Regions from separate parts of the Homo sapiens genome. Here region 1 is linked to region 2. Evidence: fine-mapped expression QTL. A gene starts in region 2. The other region holds a variant in brackets. All regions are shown on one strand. Distances are from middle to middle. Region 1 overlaps STX11 (syntaxin 11). Region 2 holds the start of STX11 (syntaxin 11).

The links.
Region 1: its variant is fine-mapped to the expression of STX11 in blood mononuclear cells (TOPMed, PIP 0.96).

What each region holds. Positions count from the first base shown.
Region 1 is chr6:144,186,999-144,191,319 of GRCh38, reverse strand. It overlaps STX11 (syntaxin 11), which reads right to left. Exons shown (of 2, transcript NM_003764.4): 2 at 1-4,321. The coding sequence ends at 3,829. Among named protein-coding and RNA genes, the nearest start is that of TRL-TAA1-1, 27 kb to the left of the region's middle. The variant T/C (reference allele first, on the strand shown) is at 2,304.
Region 2 is chr6:144,147,890-144,152,283 of GRCh38, reverse strand. It overlaps STX11 (syntaxin 11), which reads right to left and starts at 1,767. Exons shown (of 2, transcript NM_003764.4): 1 at 1,581-1,767. RefSeq lists a silencer at 1,641-2,080.

The sequences.
Region 1 (4,321 bases), 39 kb before region 2:
TGAATGACTGACATTTTTAAAATTCTAACTCATATTATCCTGGATACCGATGCATACTAGATGAGCACCTTTCCTAGTTAGGACATTTCTGGAGTTGTTACCACCTATAATCTGTGGCTTGGTGGTAGTTGTAAAATTTGATATTTGGCTAGTAGAAAGTAGTCACTGTATATGTTAAAATAGCTATAAAAGATTCTTACCTTCAGCTCCTGAAGGATCTATTGTTCTTTGTGATTTGTTCTTTCATTTTGTACCCTAAAAGATATGAGTGTATAAAATTTGCAGAATTGCCACAAGGTCTTCTTGGCCAAAGTCACCTTTCAGAGTTGCCAAGCAAGCATCATGAGATTGGTAAAGCCAGCTCTACAGCATCTCTTGGTGGCACTAGAACACAATTTCTTAAGGAAAAAGCCAGCATTTCACCCACTGCCTGGTGTGGCAGTCAGAGCCAGGAAGGGCTTTGGTGAATAGGCCAGGACGTGCAGTGGGCCAAATGATGCCTTCTCTTAGGTCAGTGACCCAGCCTCTACAACTTCCTACAACTCCTTCCAGGACTTTCTGACTCACAGCTTGGGAAGAATTAGGAAAGAACACCTGCCAAGCTGAGCAGAACAGCTGCTTCCTGCTTACGTGTTTTTGGTGGAACATCTCATTTCTTCTTCAGGACATGTTTGGATATACACAGGGATAGAAATGCCATAGTGAAAACATCTTTATGACTGTCAAAAAAAAAAAAGCCCTAATATTCACAGAAGATGGGGTCTTGGTTTCTTTATTCCATTTTATTATTTATTAAGACTGTTAACAAAAAATAGGCTTTATTTTTCCTCTGTACTTAAAAACTATAAATTTACTTGGGTCACTAACAGTGCTCTCAGTCTGAGAGAAAATTACATAATAACAACAATAATGAACAAAGCACTTAGCATGTGCCAGGCACTGTTCTAGGTGCTTTTACATATTCAGTCATCACTTTTCACAACAGCTCTATGAGGTAAGTACTGTTATCTCCGTTTTACAGATGAGGAAACTGAAGCACAGAAAAACCAAGGTTCAGTCAGACAGCTAGTATGTGGCAGAGTCAAGATTTAAATCTAAGAAACAGGATCTGGAATCTGTACTCCTAACCATTACGCCACACTGAGATGGTTCCCAAACAGCAGGAAGAAGAAGTGTTCTTTCCCTATAGGTAACAGTTCACTCATTCTTTTGGTGCAGTAATGGACAGTCTGTACCGAACTCTCCAATATAAAACGTGAGGAATTAAAATGTATATAGAGCCTGAAAACTCACTTACTTTTATAATGGTTCCAAGCAAAGAAAATGCTTTATGGGTTCAAACATGTCAAATTTATGAACTCTTCGTTTTTTTGTGGAAACTGGCTGGCAGTCTCTATTTACAATATCTCTCCTCTATTATAAAAAACATTGCAGTGGAGCTATGTGAACATTTTTTCCCCTTTCCCTTAGAGAAAGCAAATTAAGTCAAAGGTGATACATATCCTTGGAGTTGGCTGAAAAAGAAATTGGGAGAAATATGAGAATAGCCTTGTGGAACTTGGTTTCCACAATTCTCAAATTTAACCATGAAATTAAAATTAGATACAGGGGATAGATTTTCCTGGTCATAAGCAAGTCAGGCAGTGAGCTCCAAAGAATTCACATACTCCTCCTTCTAATTCTTTTAAAATTCCAGCTTCTAAAGGACCTGAGAAATATGATCACTACTAAACTCACTCATGTATTAAATAATGATTAGGAAGAGCTAAGAGTTGACACAGAGGAAGGCCAGGAAACATGGTAAATGTGGGTAAGGGCATTAAGAAGTTTGCAGACTACACCATATCTCTAAAGCCTCATGATTTTGCTAAAGTATTGTAACTCAGGAGAGAAAGCAAGACACCCTCATGGGAATTCTTTTGAGTTTTTCATTCTTTTCCCCCTCCACTCAGTTCCATCCAGATGTGGCAGCCTCAGTAGCTAGTAGAAAAAAAATTTGGCCAGGGTCAGTGGCTCAGGCCTGTAATCTCAGCACTTTGGGAGGCCAAGGTGGGCGGATTGCTCAAGCTCACAAGTTTGAGACCAGCCTGGGCCACATGGCAAACCCTGTCTCTACAGAAAATACAAAAATTAGCCGGGCATGGTGGCACATATCTGTAGTCTCAGCTATTTGTAGGCTGAGGTGGGAGGATCACTTGAGCCTGGGAGTTTAAGGCTGCAGTAAGCCATGATTATGCCACTGCACTTCAGCCTGGGTGACAAAGGGAGACCCTGTCTCAAAAGGGGGGAAAAAAGGCCAGGCA[T/C]GGTGGCTCACACCTGTAATCCCAGCACTATGGGAGGCTGAGGCGGGCGGATCACGAGGTCAGGAGATCAAGACCATCCTGGCTAACACGGTGAAACACCGTCTTTACTAAAAACATAAAAAATTAGCCAGACATTGTGGCACGCGCCCAGAGTCCCAACTTCTCAGGAGGCTGAGTCAGGAGAATCGCTCGAACCTGGGAGACAGAGGTTGCAATGAGCCAAGATCCTGCCACTGCACTCCAGCCTGGGCAACACAGTGAGACTCCATCTCAAAAAAAAAAAAAAAAAAAGGAAAAAGAAAAATTTTAACAATAATTGAGAAAGTAAACTAAATGGTCAAGCCAGAAATGTATAAAAATATGTGTATAATGTAATGTTTATTAAGCTTGCTTGAAAAACAGAATTCTTTTACTTTGAATTTCTCCATTTCAATGCATGGAAGGAATGGTCCACAGTAAAACAAAAGCAGTATTTCCAAGAATGTTAGTTGTCTCTAGCTCCGTATACATTTTCTACCGCCATATGTCTACCGCCATAACCAATGCAGAGTTGTTTAACATGAAGTTTGACCCAAACTGGACTAGGAAGGGGCAAACTGGAGTGAAACAAACTCAAAACAAGCAAACCAATACCAAGAGCCAGAAAAGTGTTCGTCTTGAAATTTATATACCATACTTACATAAAAGAAGTTAAACCAATTGATCATTATGTACATATATTAGTGAATATTAGTATTTTACATTTACATACATGTGCATATGTAATCAAGTAAAAATATAAATGTTAAATAATTTTTATCAGCGAAAAATACACAAAACATGACTGATACTTCAATTTGAGTGCTTGTTCGATATTCAGTGCTTAAAAATGTTTGGAAAAATAATACCAAAATATAACCTGGTGAAAGATATTTAAAAAGTGAAAGAGATAAGAAAATAGTAAGTGTTTGGTGTGATTTTAATAAGTAGGGGAAATGAGCAGAAATAAGATCTATATTTGGGGAGGAATTGCATAGCGTAGACCGGATGAAGAATCGGAAAGGAAGAACGTGGTTTTTCCCAAGGCCAATTTCGCTCAAAATGGAACAGAACCAGGGAATTTTCAGGACAAAGTAAATGAACTGAAGTTTCCATCATGAGTTCATTCTATTAGCAGATGCCCAATTGACTTCCTCCTTGAGTCTTTATTAGGAGGCAGGCCTCAGACATTCACCCTACAGTCAGATACAACTTCAGTTCCTTACTTGGCTTCTGTCAAGACGGTAAGAGTGCAAGGTGTCATATAATGACATTGCACAACTTTGTGGGAATCTATCTTTACTGAAGAATCATCGGACGGTATCAACTAACCATCTTTCCAAGCACAGGCTGGTTTGCAATTCTTGAACCTGGCGTTTCTTTTCTAAAGACTGAGTTCCGGAAAGGGTTGGGGCAACTCCCTGCAGGGCAGAGCTCCCGGCTTTGGTGCGTCCTTCCCAGCGCGCTCCATGGTCTGGGATGGGCGGTGGCGGCCCGGGCCGGCCTGCTACTTGAGGCAGGGACAGCAGAAGCAGCAGAGGGTCCGGCAGGGGTTCTTCTCCTCGTACTGCACGGCCTTCCGCACCTGCGCCTTGGCCTGGCCGGTGTAGTCGACCGTCTTTTGTACGTTGAGCTCGATGACGTTCAGGGTGTCGGCCTGCTTCTCCACCAGCACCGCCATCTGCAAGAAGAGCTCGTGTACGTCGCGGATGCGGCTCTCCAGGCGCAGCAGTTCGCGGTGGCGGCTCTCGATCTCGTTGAGGGCGGCCCGCGCGCCCTTCACGTCGGCCAGCAAGTTCTCGGAAAACACGTCCCACTTACCCTGCTCGAACATGTCCTCGATCTGGTCGCCCGAGACTTCCTTGCCCATGATCTCCAGCTGGCGCTGGATGCGGATCTTGCAGTTGTCGCGCTGCTTCATCTCGGCCTGGTTGTAGTCGTGCATGGCGCGCTGGAAGGTGAGGGTGAGCGCGTTGTACTGCGCCCGCGAAATGCGCGCC
Region 2 (4,394 bases):
CCTATCTCATTATATTGAATTTTCCAGCATATTTAAATAAACTATTAATTAGTCACACTATTTCTTAAAAGTCACACTATCAACTAATCGTGACCGCAATTATCTAGGGGTGATAATCTGCTGAGTCTACTCTTTAAATACACTGGGACCCAGCATATTGAGTTATATTGGCACAGAAACTTCACTCTGGGTATAGATTTACCCTAGTACCTTGCCGGCAGGATCCTATTATTCATGGTTGTACAAGCAAGGTTCAGGGAAGAGGCTGGCACAGAGAAGGTACCTGGTAACTGTTGTTTGAGGCTGAATTCAGCTCAACTCAGCTCCAGTAGAGATGGTGTCCCCTTCTCTACCGTGTTGAGATAGTGTGCAGTCCCTTCCTAAGGGCTGTTACCCACCGCAATAGGACTTGTCAGCTTCAACTTTTAAATTTCTCTGCTCCCGCTGGGACCCACCCGCTTCAAAAATCATCATGTGGTTTTAGCACCAATTTAGTAAACACAAACTGTCTGAAATATTTTGATTTTAGAGAGTTACTTACAATCACCACATTAAATGATACCTTTCTCCCATGCAGTGAAAATGACAGCAAAATGGTCATTGAATAATGAAATTAATTTTCTCTTGGGCATCTGTGGCAAAGCACATGATTTCAATGGTTATCTTAGATCAGCCCAGTGACCTTTACTGGCATGTTGTAACATCAGGCGCCTTAGGAAACTGAAAACTCAATCGTCACTTCCCATACCACTGCCCCAGGTTGGCAGGGCAGGCATTTCACATCTAGAGTCTCATTTTAAAGCAAGCCTCGCTTTTCAAAAGTTCATTAACAAAGTCTCACAATTAAGAGAGCAGCCCTGTGACTCATTTTTGGATACCTGTAAATAACAGCTCCTCCCTCTGCTGAGAAACGGCTGAAACAAGTGCGTGAGAACCACAGGAAGTAATACAGATCTCAGCTGGTGTCAGCGGAGTCTAGAAAAAGGCAGAATTCCCTCTCAGGACGGCGTGGCTCTCGCAGGCATTGCCACTACTTCTCTCCATGTTTCTAAAACAAAGTCTTACGTGGGCTTCGAAGGGACTCCTCGAAGGCTCTATCAATTTCTCCGTCTTTCCTGGCTACTGAGTGACACCGCCAAGTTCAAGTCAAGAAGTACCCATTCTGGTGTTTTTGACACAGTCACCCTACTAGGAAGTGAAGAGGTGATAATAAAAAAACACTCCAGCCTTTCGATTTAAAATAAAAGTAGTCTTGGGTGGACACTTTATAAAGGCAGCCTACCAACAGGTATCCCTAAAATAATTCTTACGAAGCACTAAATCCTAAGTCCCTCAGCCTCTGAAATTAAAAGTAATTTTAAAAAATCATTCTGCTTTATATGAGAAACCCAATGCTGTGTTTCCGAAGGTGCCCAGAGGCGGCGTGAGGACCTGCGCCAGATCCAAAATCCCACCTAAGGCACAGCCGCGGGTCCCGAGCCTAGACAGTGCCCCCGCCCCGACCCGCCCTCCCCGATCTCTCCGCGCACGGGGAAAATAGTCAGGAAGAGAAATGGGGGCTCAGGAAGAGAAAAACAAACCTGGACTGGGAGCGAGAGTGCGAACCGAGAAGCCCCTCTCCCGGCAGGGCGCGCGTCCCCTGTGGGCGCAGCGATGGAGAAGGAAACCTGTTGCGCGACTCCCGGCGGCTCCGCTCCCGGCGCCTCCTGCGGCCGAGGCTGAGTTCCTCCACGGCCGCCCGAGCTCCGCGCCGCCGCGGCCGCATCTGGGCGCCGCCGGCTCAGCCCCCGCCGCTTAGGAAGCGACCACAGCTGGGGACCAGGCCCCGCCCCGGGATGACAGCGCTGGGGCGCGGCGGCAGCCGGCTCACAGAGCGCGGGTTCCCGCCCCACCCAGAGTCCATGCGCTCGGGACCGCCCGGAGCCGGGGACGCGCTCCAGCCCCTCCCGCAAGCCCAGGGGCGTTCCCGCGGGCTGCGCGGACCGGCGCGGGGAGTGGGATGTTTGCCGCCCAAGACACTTCCTCCGCTCGTCCTCTGGTCCCCAGGGCAGGGAGCGCGCTGGACTTCCCCCGGGAATCCCCGCTGCGCTGGTGACATTTGCAGTCCGGTGCGTTGCCGCGGCGAGGACGCTGGAAGCCGTCTCTGAGCGTGGGTGTGGCTGCGGAAGCTGCGGCAGGTCCTGCATCCCTGGGACCCTCGAGGACGCGGGCGAGGAGCCTGCGGTCACACGGAGGCCGAGCACCGCCTTCCCAGAACCCTGCCGACCAACCTCTCTCCAGTCGGCCTCAACACCCGCCGGGCTCATCATTCTCTGGATATCAACTGAGCGTCCCCTTGTGTGCCCACCGCGCTCAAAAATACTGCCAAGACCCACCCTCCAGGTCCCGGCACTTTAACGGGGAGGGATAAATAGAAAGTGTGGATTGTGCCAGGTGGTGGTAAAGCACCTTGAAAAACAAGGCTGAGGCTGAAAAGTAAGGAAGTGATACTCAAAAAAGGAAAAATCGGGCCGGGCGCGGTGGCTCACGCGCGTATTCCTAACACTTTGGGAGGCCGAAGGGGGAGGATCTCTTGAGCCCAGGAGTTTGAGACCAGCCTGAGCGATGTGGTGAAAGCCTATCTCTACAAAAAATAAAAAAATTAACTGGGCGTGGTGGCGCACGCTGTGATCCCAGCTGCTCGGGAGGCTAAGGTGGGAGGATCACTTGAGGCTGAGAGGTCAAGGATGCAGTGAGCCGAGATCGCGCCACTGTACTCCAGCCTGGGCGACAGAATGAGACGCTGTCTCAATTGAATGAGAAGAAAAAAAATAAAACTAAAGAACGAATCCTGCCTTGATGGCAGAATGTTTAGACACAGGAACCACCTGAAAGCTCCCAGTTGCCAAAGATGGAACCATTTGAGCAACGAAGTAAACTAAACAAGGTAGTATTGGATTACAAGCCAAAGTAAAAAAATCCATGAGTCTACACTGATATAAATAAATAATTGAATAAATAAATAAAAGGCGGAGAGGAGACAAATCTCCTATACAGAATAATTCCAAATAATTTATGTAGATCATGTACCCTAGGCTGTGCACAGTGACTTCCTCCAAAATAGTACAATGTGGAAAGGGAAAAACAGTAGGTTTACAATGGAGAAAGCCGACAGACACTACCCCAGCCAGATGTTCTAAGCCAACGTCAACAATCGTGACTCATTGATGGCATGTAGTCAATATGATGTGATGAATGTGGCATATTACATGTGTGGTCTCCCTCCTGGAAAACCATAACCTCAGTCTCATAATGAGAAAAATATCAAACAAATTCCAGTAGTGGAACATCCTACAAAATACCTGACCAATATTCCTCAAAGTTGTCAGGTTATCAAAAGTAAGGAAAGTACAGTCCAGACGTGGCTCACGCCTGTAATCCGTACACTTTGAGAGGCTGAAGCGAGAGGATTGCTTGAGGCCAGGAGTTCGAGGCCTGATCTGGCCGACATAGCCAGATGCTGTCTCTACAAAAAATAAAATAAAATAAGGAAAGTCTGAAAAACTGCCGCAGCCTAGAAGAAACTCAGGAGACGTGAAAACTAAATGTAATGTGGTATCCTGGATGGGATCCTGGGACAGAAAAAGGACTTGGGGAAAAACTAAGGAAATCTAAATAAAGCATGGACTTTCATTAGTAATAAGAATCAAGGTTGATTAATTAGTTGTGAGGAATGTAATGTAAGATGGTAATCATAGGGAAATCTGAAATGGAATTTATGGAAATTCTGTACTACCTTTGCAGTTGTTCTGTAAATCTAAAACGGTTCTAAAAAATACAGTTTATTTTAAAAGAAAGTAAAATAAGAGGGATGAGGTATGTTATATTTTTAAAAATGGGTATATTGCAAAGCCATCTAAGATAAGAGAATCATTGAGGGAGGAAACAATGCAGCTATTGGGATTAAGATCATTTCAAGCCTAGGAATCAGTGGATGTAAAGGCCCCGAGGCAGGAGCATGCTGGGCTTCTGGGAGAAATATCAGCGTGGGCAAAACAGAGTCCAGGAAGAGTGATGGTGGTGGGGCTAGGAGTGGGGAGTAGAGCATGTAGGGCATTGGTAGTCATGATAGTCTTTACATTTTACATTGATTGAGACAGGAAGACTGAAGAATGTTTATCAGAGAAGCTAAATGATGTTGCTGGTTGTTTTTTTAATCTACCGTTTTGTTGAGGACAGATTAAAGGACAAAGATTAAAACAGGCCAACGAGTTAGAAAGCTGTGATGGTTAATTTGATGTGTCAAATTTATTGGACCATGGGGTGCCCAGATATTTGGTAAAACATTATCCTGGGTGTGTCTGTGAGGGTGCTTGCTGATGACATTTTTAATTTTTTTGAGACAGCAGCTCACT